2 linked regions of the Homo sapiens genome follow. The protein of the gene in region 1 purifies or fractionates together with the protein of each later gene. This does not show direct contact. Each region holds a gene or a part of one and is shown in the gene's direction. Other genes may lie near its edges.

Region 1 (5,464 bases):
TTGGAGAAAGAAAATATTCTGAGAAACACTTCTGCCATGTCCGAAATAGTTCATCCCATCTTGGGAATCCCAGAGGGGACCACTACATTATAACAATAACTGATATTCATGAAAATCTGTTGGAATTCTGTTCAGTGACTATCTAAAAGGTAGGCAGGAAAGTATTCATTAAAGTTTAGATATATTTTCATCAGGATGATTAAAATCAGTTATATGGAGAAATCCAAAAATGTGGAACAAAGTCACCCATGAGGAAATCATTCTTGAAAGGTAAGCACAGTGTAGTACTTTGCTAATAGGCTTTTTGAGGTGTCATCTGCCACTTGACATCTTTGTCTAGACCAGCACTAGCACTCTAGGTTGTTCTTTGGGTGAGAAGCATAAATAGGGAAAGGAGGCCTGGCACTGAATCTTGTCTTTATCACTTAATGGTATTGAGATCTTGGGAAAGTTCTCAGTTTCCCTGAGCCTGTTTTGCTACCTGTGAAACAGTCATATTACCATTTCATCCTAGAATTTTTAAAGAGAGGATTGGTGAATGTGCTTGGCATAGTTAATATCCTTTTACCATTATTTTTCTCCTACTTTGATCCTGGTAGGCAACTTGCTGTGTGTCATTTGGCAATTAGTGATATATTGGCTTGACTTCTATTGGTGGGAGCTGTTATGAGGTATGCAGTGCTTCATTTTGGAAATCCCTGGCGCTCAGAGAGCAGCAGATATTCTTGCTTCTCAAAAATAGTGGGGCTCCCATGGATTTTGTCTCTCTACACATTTTATGTTGTCCCATGTGGGAAGAAGTTAAAGTGAGTGGTGACTTGTCCCTGGGTCCCTTTCCTAACAAAGTGGTCCTAAGTTCAGGCTCCTGTGTGCTGTGTAGGCTTCTCTAGCTGAGGTCGTGGTAAGATCTCTTCTGAGTCCTCTGGAGTTAGGGTGTGGCTGGAGTCCAGTATCTTTTGTTCTGTAACCTTTCAGTTGCAGTGGCCTTGGTCTGGAGAGTTGTGATTTGTCCTTGGTTAGATCACACACATCCAATACTTGGCTTTCTTACTCTTTCCCTCCCAATTTTGCCTGACTCTTAACTTCTGTGGGTTCTTATCCTTAAAAGGCGACTACTTGGAAATGAGAATTCGGTTGCTGCTCTGTGATTGTTCCTGTGTCCTTCCCATCTCTGAGGTTTTGTTTATTGGCGGCATGTTCCATATCCTGCCATTCTCTGCTCAGACCATTATCAAAACAACATTTAAGACGACTGATTCGTTAAAGACTCAGCTTTGACTTCTCAGAAATAAGACTGCATGTCACTATCATACTTTACCTTTTTAGTAGTACCTGAAACTACTTCTAACCAGTGACCTGGATTTAGGAATCTCTGGTTTCAAAATTGCTTCTAACTTGTTATGACTCTTAGAAAATAATTTAACCACACTGGGCCTAAATTTAGTTTAACCTGTAAAATTAGGATTGGATCAGTTTTTCAAACATTCTTTGTTGGTTGGGGTGGGATGGGAATGACAAGAAAGCTCAGTAGGTAGGTTCTTCATTCAACCAATATTTTGTTTATATACTAAAGCCCTTCACTATTAAATAACTTGGAAAAACTACTGGACTGGATGGTCTCTTAAGATTGCAAGTGCCAAGCCTTGGCACTCTAGGACCCATCCCTTTTAACAGTAGCATCTATTTTTAGACTAGACAAGGATACCTAAGCTGTATTACAAATATAGTTCCAGACACATCATGGTACTCTACATCTAGTCCGGTTCCTGATACCTTTAACCAATGCTCTGGCCTGGCCATTCCTGCAGTGCCTGTCCTTCTCCTTTGGCTTATGCTATCCTCAGCAGCACATGCATTATTTGTAAGCCTCCCTTACCCATTTGATACTACCCAATCAAGACTCTAGTATAAATGTTCTGTCCCTTCAAGAAACCTTCCCCAGTTGGCCATTTTCCCAAAGTACATTTTCCACTCTTATGGTTCAGTACACTTTGCTTTGTCTGGTAGTTTTATGTGTAAAGCTCAGAGGACTGGATCTTGGGTTTCTTTATAGTAAACCATCCAAATGCCTTGCATTGTACTATACTGAAGGTAACATGGATCCAAGTCATATGGCTTAAAAATTCTTTTCTCTTTCAGGATCGAATCATCAATTTAGTTGTTGGCAGCTTAACATCCTTATTGATTCTAGTAAGTATCCTCATTTTGTGCCTCACCCAGGCTCTTAGCCAGTTTTGAAAACTTTATCAATTATGGTTAACTTTCCAAAAAAAGCTAAATAAGTGCTTTTAATTTTATTACCACAAAATTGCAGTTGCTAATTGGAGTAGCTAATTTAATTCTGCCCCACCCCCAGGTTGAATATGTGAAATGGTACAAGTCAGACAACTTCGTTTTAAGATAATTGAGTTTACCATGTTTTGCCTAGTAAATTTGTAAAAATGTCAGTGGCTAGTAGCCACTTCCTTCTGTCATCTACCATAATTCCCCATTTCTATTTTGTTCCTGAAGAACATATCCATTACCCTTTGGTCAAGTTTTAAAAGATTTGGTCACAGTGTATAGTAGTTGTACTGTATACATCCTGTATACAGTATACATCTGGGAGCTATTACAATAAAATTTTTAAAAGCTGTATTTTCCATAGTTTGACATTTTTCTGGCACATTAAATTTAAGAGAATTTTTTTCCATGGCTTCTTAATGAAAAGATTGCATATAATGCTGCATCTGTTAGAAACAGAACTATACAACATTAGAAGTCTTTCAGTGTGTTTCATAATGTTATAGCAAAACCAGCTTTGATTATATTCATTTTGCTAGAAATATTTAAAATAACAAAATGGCTAGAACTTTTACCAGCAGAATCATTAATCCTGGGAGTGAGGTTTAGTTAATGAAGTTATTTTGGCATCAGCTAGTATTACTGATGTTTTCTCTCCTTTCATAAGTAAGGGAAAGTTTAGAAAAGAAGTACTAAAATAACTCGAACATATTTATAATTACTGTATTAACATTCTAGAAAGCAAACTTGGTGGCAGATGTAATTTTATAACATGAAGCATTTTGTAGTACTGTTGCCTAGACTCCAGTTGGTAATTACCAAGTCTTGGAATTACTGTTAAGGCCTTACATAATTTCTCTTCATACAGGTAACGCTGATAAGTGCTTTTGTTTTCCCTCAACTACCTCCAAAACCGTTGAATATATTCTTTGCTGTCTGCATCTCTTTGAGTAGTATTACTGCCTGCATACTTGTAAGTACTGTTGAGAATTTAAACAGTGTTCTTGAGGGTTTAAGTTGCAATGCACAGGACAAAAATTTTCAGCCTTGGGTCTATACAAAAGGGTATCTCTTAATTATATCCTCATCCTCCCCCTAAAAGTATGTTAGAATTCTCAATAAAATCTGAGTCTTCTCCTTTTCTCCTAAATCCCAAAGTTGTAACCCCAAAGAGAAATTCCACTCCCTTGATAGCTTAAAAAAAAAAAAAAAAAAAAAAAAAAAATTAGTGGAAAGACGTAGGTGGCCAAAGATTTTAATTTACTTAATTCATCTTCACTCAAGGACTACGTAAGGGCCAACAGTCTTTGGGAAATGCCAGTTACTGCTAAGGGAAGAGATAGAGCACTCTGGATTTAATTCTAATTATTACAAAATTAGTTTAATCTACATGTTTGTTTCCCAAAATGGAGGTATTAACACCAAAACCTCCTGGGAAATCTAAAGCTGCAGTTGTTGTAAAAATGTTTGATTTACTGCAAATGTTTCTTTTATGGTGAAGAAACAAAGATGGTGGTGGCTCCTCAGTGTTCATTCATTAGTTGGCTACATTGTTTCATGTTCCTTTAGAGGCAGAATCAAAAGAAAAAACAATAGTAATTTGCTTATCTGAGTTAAAATTAATTAAACCAGGAGACACCTCCAAGTGTTCTCATTCACTGATCCTGCTATATACTCCCATGACCCGAAGAAGAACTAGCCCATCCCACTTTGGGAGCTTTCCTGTTCCCCTAGCTTGAAGCCTAAAGTGACTAACAGACAATGAACTAGTTTAATCCAAATATATTATGGAAGCCCTATTTTACGGTCTGAACCAACTGTATGAATCATGAGTCTAAATGTTGTCTTCCTTTCCTGTTAAGTAGTATGCCCAGGTATATGTTCTTGGATAGCTTGCCAGATGACTGGTGGAGTATACAGGTGTGAATATAGAGGAAAGTAAACTGAGAAAGTAGGAATAAGTATGATCTTGGATGTGGAAACTCAGAGTAAGAATTAAATTCTGGCTGTACTGATCTCAGGAATGTAGAGACCTCAGAATATGGAGAATGTCTGTCTCATTTAGGGGAATAAACAAATACTAATGAAATTTGAAATTGGTAGAGAAAATGTTATATTTCAAATTTTAATTTATAAACTTTAATTCTTCTTTTAGATCTACTGGTATCGACAAGGAGACTTAGAACCGAAATTTAGAAAGCTAATTTACTATATCATATTTTCTATCATCATGTTGTGTATATGTGCAAACCTGTACTTCCATGATGTGGGAAGGTGAGGCTGCCAAGGAGAAGTACTTACCAGGACTCTTCAAAATGATACATTAGGACAGTGAGTAATTTTTGGATAAGGTATGCTGAAGAATCTCCTGCAGAAGTCTGATACATGATTTTCATGTTAATTGTAAATGTTAATTCCCTCTTGCAAGGGAGACATATCCTAGATCACTTTGCTTTTTCTTTAAGGAGCTGATGTTGCACCTAAACATTCCAACCCTTAAAGCTAAAACAGCACAAAAAAATTTCACTTTTGAAATGAAATTTTTATAATTGTATGGCAAAAGGCTATGTAAAAACAAATCTTGCATCTTAAGACAAATATTCTTTTATTTCTGTTAAACTGAATATACAATTGTTCCCTAGGCAACCAACTTTTGCTTATAACTACAATTTAATTTCACGTTGACAAAACACAGTGAAAAGACAACTTTGTGAAGATCTAATTACAATAATAAATAAAATAATTTATACAAGGGTTTTTTTTTCTTGACTTTTCTATAGGGGTCATATTCATTAAAAAGCCCAAAAGGCTACCTTTGCCTTAACCCTTCTGTAGTACAGGAATGATTCTTAGATTTGTTTCCTTTTGTTATAGAAGCAAATATTGTTTTTTTAAAATAGCCTGAGATGAGAGGTTATATTGTACCCCACCAGCTAACACACTAAGTGGATGACAAACTATTCTCTCGGTAATTTATATAGCAAAACATCTAATAAATGGTCATGGTATCAAGGATAGGTAACATTACTTCCTTCCTCATTTAGTTTTACTTCAAAGTGCTAACTTTGTAAACTAATGACAGTGGTTTCTGAGGGGGTGAAAACTGCTTAGATTCTGGTGGGTTTTGTTACTATGCTTATCCATATTCCCTTTAAAAGTAACAAAAAACCTGTAGTGAATT
Region 2 (4,508 bases), on another chromosome or scaffold:
CAAAGTTTTAAAGAATGCAACGGAAGTCCAGGTTTTGCCTTGGGCTTCCTAGTATTTGGGTGGCTAGAAATGTAGAAAACTGGGAAGAGGTGAGCTGTGGATGCCCACAATATAGGTTCAGACTGCAATTTCCCAGAAATATAACAATTTGGACTAGTCAAAGAGGGCCCATATCATTACATTAAAATGCCAGATTATCTAGTTTTTATAGTATCACCCTACATTTTTACAGCATAGTATTGTTTAGAGAGCACTTGCCGCTATGTTTTCCATGTTAATGCTCAACACAGTTCTGTGAAGTAGCCCGGTGTTTGTTTTTGATCCTCCTACTTAAGAGATCCTCCTATTTTAGAGAGTAAACCAAGGCATAGAAAAGTGAGTTGCTTAAGGCAGCATATTAAAAAGGGGCAGAAATAGTATTTTTACTCAGGTGTTTTGAACATTGTCCAGTACCTATATTCCAGTATGCATCCTTGCATTCAATTCATGGGGTATTTATTGAGTAAACATAGTGTTCTTACAATAGAAACATTCTATGCCTCTGATTTTTATTCCAGTTTATGTAGAAGTAAATCTTAAGTGTGAACTATTAACAAAGTTGATATTTTATTTATATTTGTTAGTAATTTGTGTTTTGTTTTTGTTTATGTTTTGAGGGGAAGGCCAAGTAGCTACTTAGGTAAAAGAGTTGCTGAGTGGCTGAAGAATATGGAAGACAACTACAATTCCTACACATTCTTGTACATTTTAGTTGAACAATGAGTGATTACATTTATTTACCCAGTGCCTCTTCTATAAGGCAACAACTGGTAGTTTATCCTATTGAGAAGCGTAGATAGGATGCTTATTAGCAGTAACTGCTCTTGGTTTCAACTTGCATCTTACTTAGCTTTTTCACCGTTTTGTGGTTTCTTGGAGGAAGAATACCCATAATATACATTTGGAGACTGTTGTTCTGTAGTGTCAATGAAATGTGGGGGTGGGAAAATGTCATTCAAGACTCCCATACAAAATGTCTATTGCTGCCTATATTTTGCTATGGGAAAGTAGCCACAGATAATGTTTTTTTTTTCCTCATTAGTATTTTAAGATTTTCCATCCTAGTGGAAAGATATGATTTGATTCATCCTATTTACTTTGTATATTAAAGTACAGTAGAACCTGCCACTTTTTTTGGAAATGCAGCATAAGGATAAAGATAAATTTCATATCAGTTCAGCAAGTTCTATTTAGCAGTGTGTTGAAGTTGAGACTGAATAAAATATTTGGTTTGGTTTTCTGTTCAAAATTTTACCTTGATAAGGACAATATTTTTCTACATATATCAGTAGGCAGTAATGATTACTTCAAAGCTTCCAAAGCCAGATACTACACCTGCATGTTCCAACATAGTTGCTGAATTTATTCCCAAGATGCATGTAATGTATACTTTGTATTATTGAGAATGAATAAAGAAAAGTCATAATGATGCCTTCCAGCTGTGCAAGTTAATATTAAAATATAATTTGTTTGCATATTTCACCTAATAGGTCTTCTTCATTGCTATACTGTTTACTTAAGTGAACAATGGAAATGTTGCTGTTTATCTTAAGGATTTGTAACATGCCTAAGATCTTACAGTACAGACTTCTATAATTAATGAAACATTTTTCTTTTTCCTTTCCAGGATCAGCTCAGCTACTATTTAATAAAACAAAATCTGTAGAATTCACGTTTTGTAATGACACTGTCGTCATTCCATGCTTTGTTACTAATATGGAGGCACAAAACACTACTGAAGTATACGTAAAGTGGAAATTTAAAGGAAGAGATATTTACACCTTTGATGGAGCTCTAAACAAGTCCACTGTCCCCACTGACTTTAGTAGTGCAAAAATTGAAGTCTCACAATTACTAAAAGGAGATGCCTCTTTGAAGATGGATAAGAGTGATGCTGTCTCACACACAGGAAACTACACTTGTGAAGTAACAGAATTAACCAGAGAAGGTGAAACGATCATCGAGCTAAAATATCGTGTTGGTAAGACTTCTATGAAAGCTTCTTTTTTTATTTGTCCTGGTGCAACCTGATCCTCTTTCGAGAGGAGGCCAAATGGGGATAGGTACTCCTTTGAATCAAAAAGCAGGCTGTTATTAATAAATGTTGATGTAATGTTTAGCAAGTTTAAGATTGTGATTTCTATCCTATTTGTTAATCTACTCTTCATGGTAAAACACATTTACTATTTAATTTGTATTACTTGTTAATTTGTATATTGTGTGGTTCTCAAACTTTTGGTCTAAGGACCATTTTATTTGGCTGATTGGTCCTGGGGTAATGTACTCTTCATTTCTGTTTGCTGCCATCCAAGTGCTTTCTTTCCTGTGACTAATTTTCAAGTCTCTTTCCAATTATTCAGCCTTCTGTTTTTTGTGTTTTTTTTTTTTTTTTTTTTTTTTTTTTAACCTTACACTTTGACCAAGGGATGACAAGTCCCAGCCATGCTCCCTCTGGAGAGAATAGAGGAGAGTCAGGAGATTAAATCACGTTATCATGGATGATTTCTTCAGATTTTCTGTGCTTAGCCTTACTTTGGTCTTCTTTTTGTTGGCCAAAATATGAGAGAACTAGAGATTCAAATTCATTTATTCAAATTCAGACTTGATGATAGCACCATGATTCTGCCCTTTTTATCACAAACTTGGGTTGCTGAGGTGTAGAAGGTAGTAAAATTAGCTGAAGTAAATAGTCTCCTCTCCTTGCTGTTTCCTGCTGTGCTAGCTGAGTTCTTCAACCCCATATGAGTATGTTCTTTCTGTTTTGAAATCTCTATTTAGAATTACCTGTCATATTACCGATCATGGCTTAACCACATTTTGAGAACCTTAACTCTAGATAGGTTCAGTTCTGTTCAGTTGGATCAACTATTTGCCTAGCTTTTATAAAATAATCTACTACCAGATTAGGAATGGGGTGTTTGGTTTGATGAAATGTTTGCACATTACTTAGGATTGAGAATCAGGAGGTCTGAGTTACAGCCCCTGTTCAGCAACTTACTATTCACCTGTGTGATCTTGAGAAGGTGCTTAACCGAGTCCAAGTTACCTCATGTCCGAAATGGAGATGACAATAGATACTTGCTTTTATGTATTCTACAGTCTAATGAGCATAAACCAAAGTGTGTTGTAAATGTTAGTTGTTTTCCTGGGATGTTTATTTTATGAAGTAAGGTATCAAGTTGTTGAAGTTAGCCTAGAGCATTGTGAGAGGGATTTGTGTGCAGTGAGGAATGGGCAAGGGATGGCTCCGAGTAGGCAAGGAGAATTTGAAAGGTCTTTCTGCTCAGAAATCTCTCTTACATTGTAGCTTTTACTATTGATATTAATTTGGGCAAAGGAGCTTTTTTTGTTGTTGTTAAGTATACCTTTAATGAAGGGTGTAATCAGTCAGTCATATCCACTGCAACTAACTGGTATTAGATCATCTAATACCTAGTTGAAATTTTTCTGAGGTAATGTACAATTTTGTGGAAATGAAAGAATAAGATATGGGGGAACAGTAACTTTTGGGGGGTAATGCAGGTCACTGAGAGGTAAACTGGAAAACTCAAAATATGAGATTTGAAAGGCCAGAAGATGAAATGAAGATGGAAGAGAAAGGAATGCCAGGATCTGAGATAAAAACAGTTTATTATTTTGCGTGTGATTGAAAGACTGTTTTATCTTTGTTTGCAAAATACCCTATAAAAATAAAAACTAGACTTATTTTGGGAGCCATTAAAAGGAGAAAGTATTGTTTTATTATAGAGAATGTAGAAAATTCTACCAGAGGTTTGAGACATTTGGCTTTGCATCCATTTTAATTTTTTGAAATAATTATTGATTTACAGGACGATTCAAAGATAGAGAGCTTCCATGTGCCCTTCACCCAGTCCCCCCAATGGTTTCCTCTTATGTGACACAATATGAAAATCAGGAAGTTCACAATGGTGCAGTGTGTGTTAATGGTTCGCTCTCATTTTATCACGTGTTTATTTGCGTAACTACCTACACAATCAGGACATAGACCTATCCATCATAACAAACATCTCCCTCATGCTTATTCTTACTAGTCATACCGCCACCTCCCACTGTCCCTAACCTGGCAAGCACCAATTTGTCCTCCATATCTATAATTTTGTCATTTCAACAATGCTATATAAATGGAATGATACAAGATGTGACCTTTTGAGAAGGGCTTTTTCACTAAGCACAATGCCCTTGAGATCTATCCAAGTTTTTGCATCTATCAATAGTTCTTTTTTCCTTACTTTTTTTTTTGCTGAGTAGTAGTCCATAGTATGAATATATCACAGTTTGTTTAACCACTTACCTATAGTAGGACATTTTGGTTGTTTCCAAGTTTGGGCTGTTACAAATGAAACTGCTCTGAACAATTGTGTACAGGTTCTTGTGTAGACACAGTTTTCATTTCTCTGGGATAAATGCTCAGAAGTATGGTTACTGGGCTGTATGGTAAGTATATGCTT

Evidence for each region. The genes of interacting proteins can lie anywhere in the genome.
Region 2: the proteins of TMEM243 (region 1) and CD47 purify together in Homo sapiens (affinity purification with mass spectrometry; one large-scale study listed by BioGRID and IntAct). This does not show direct contact.

What each region holds. Positions count from the first base shown.
Region 1 is NC_000007.14:87,195,733-87,201,196, reverse strand, and holds the end of TMEM243 (transmembrane protein 243), read left to right. Parts: exon of another isoform or gene 1-2,139; coding exon 2,140-2,190; exon of another isoform or gene 2,191-3,151; coding exon 3,152-3,256; coding exon of another isoform or gene 3,257-3,382; exon of another isoform or gene 3,383-3,515; intron 3,516-4,438; coding exon 4,439-4,561; 3' UTR 4,562-5,037; downstream 5,038-5,464.
Region 2 is NC_000003.12:108,077,503-108,082,010, reverse strand, and holds part of CD47 (leukocyte surface antigen CD47 isoform 1 precursor), read left to right. Parts: intron 1-1,666; coding exon 1,667-2,020; intron 2,021-4,508. UniProt on the Homo sapiens protein: Adhesive protein that mediates cell-to-cell interactions. Acts as a receptor for thrombospondin THBS1 and as modulator of integrin signaling through the activation of heterotrimeric G proteins.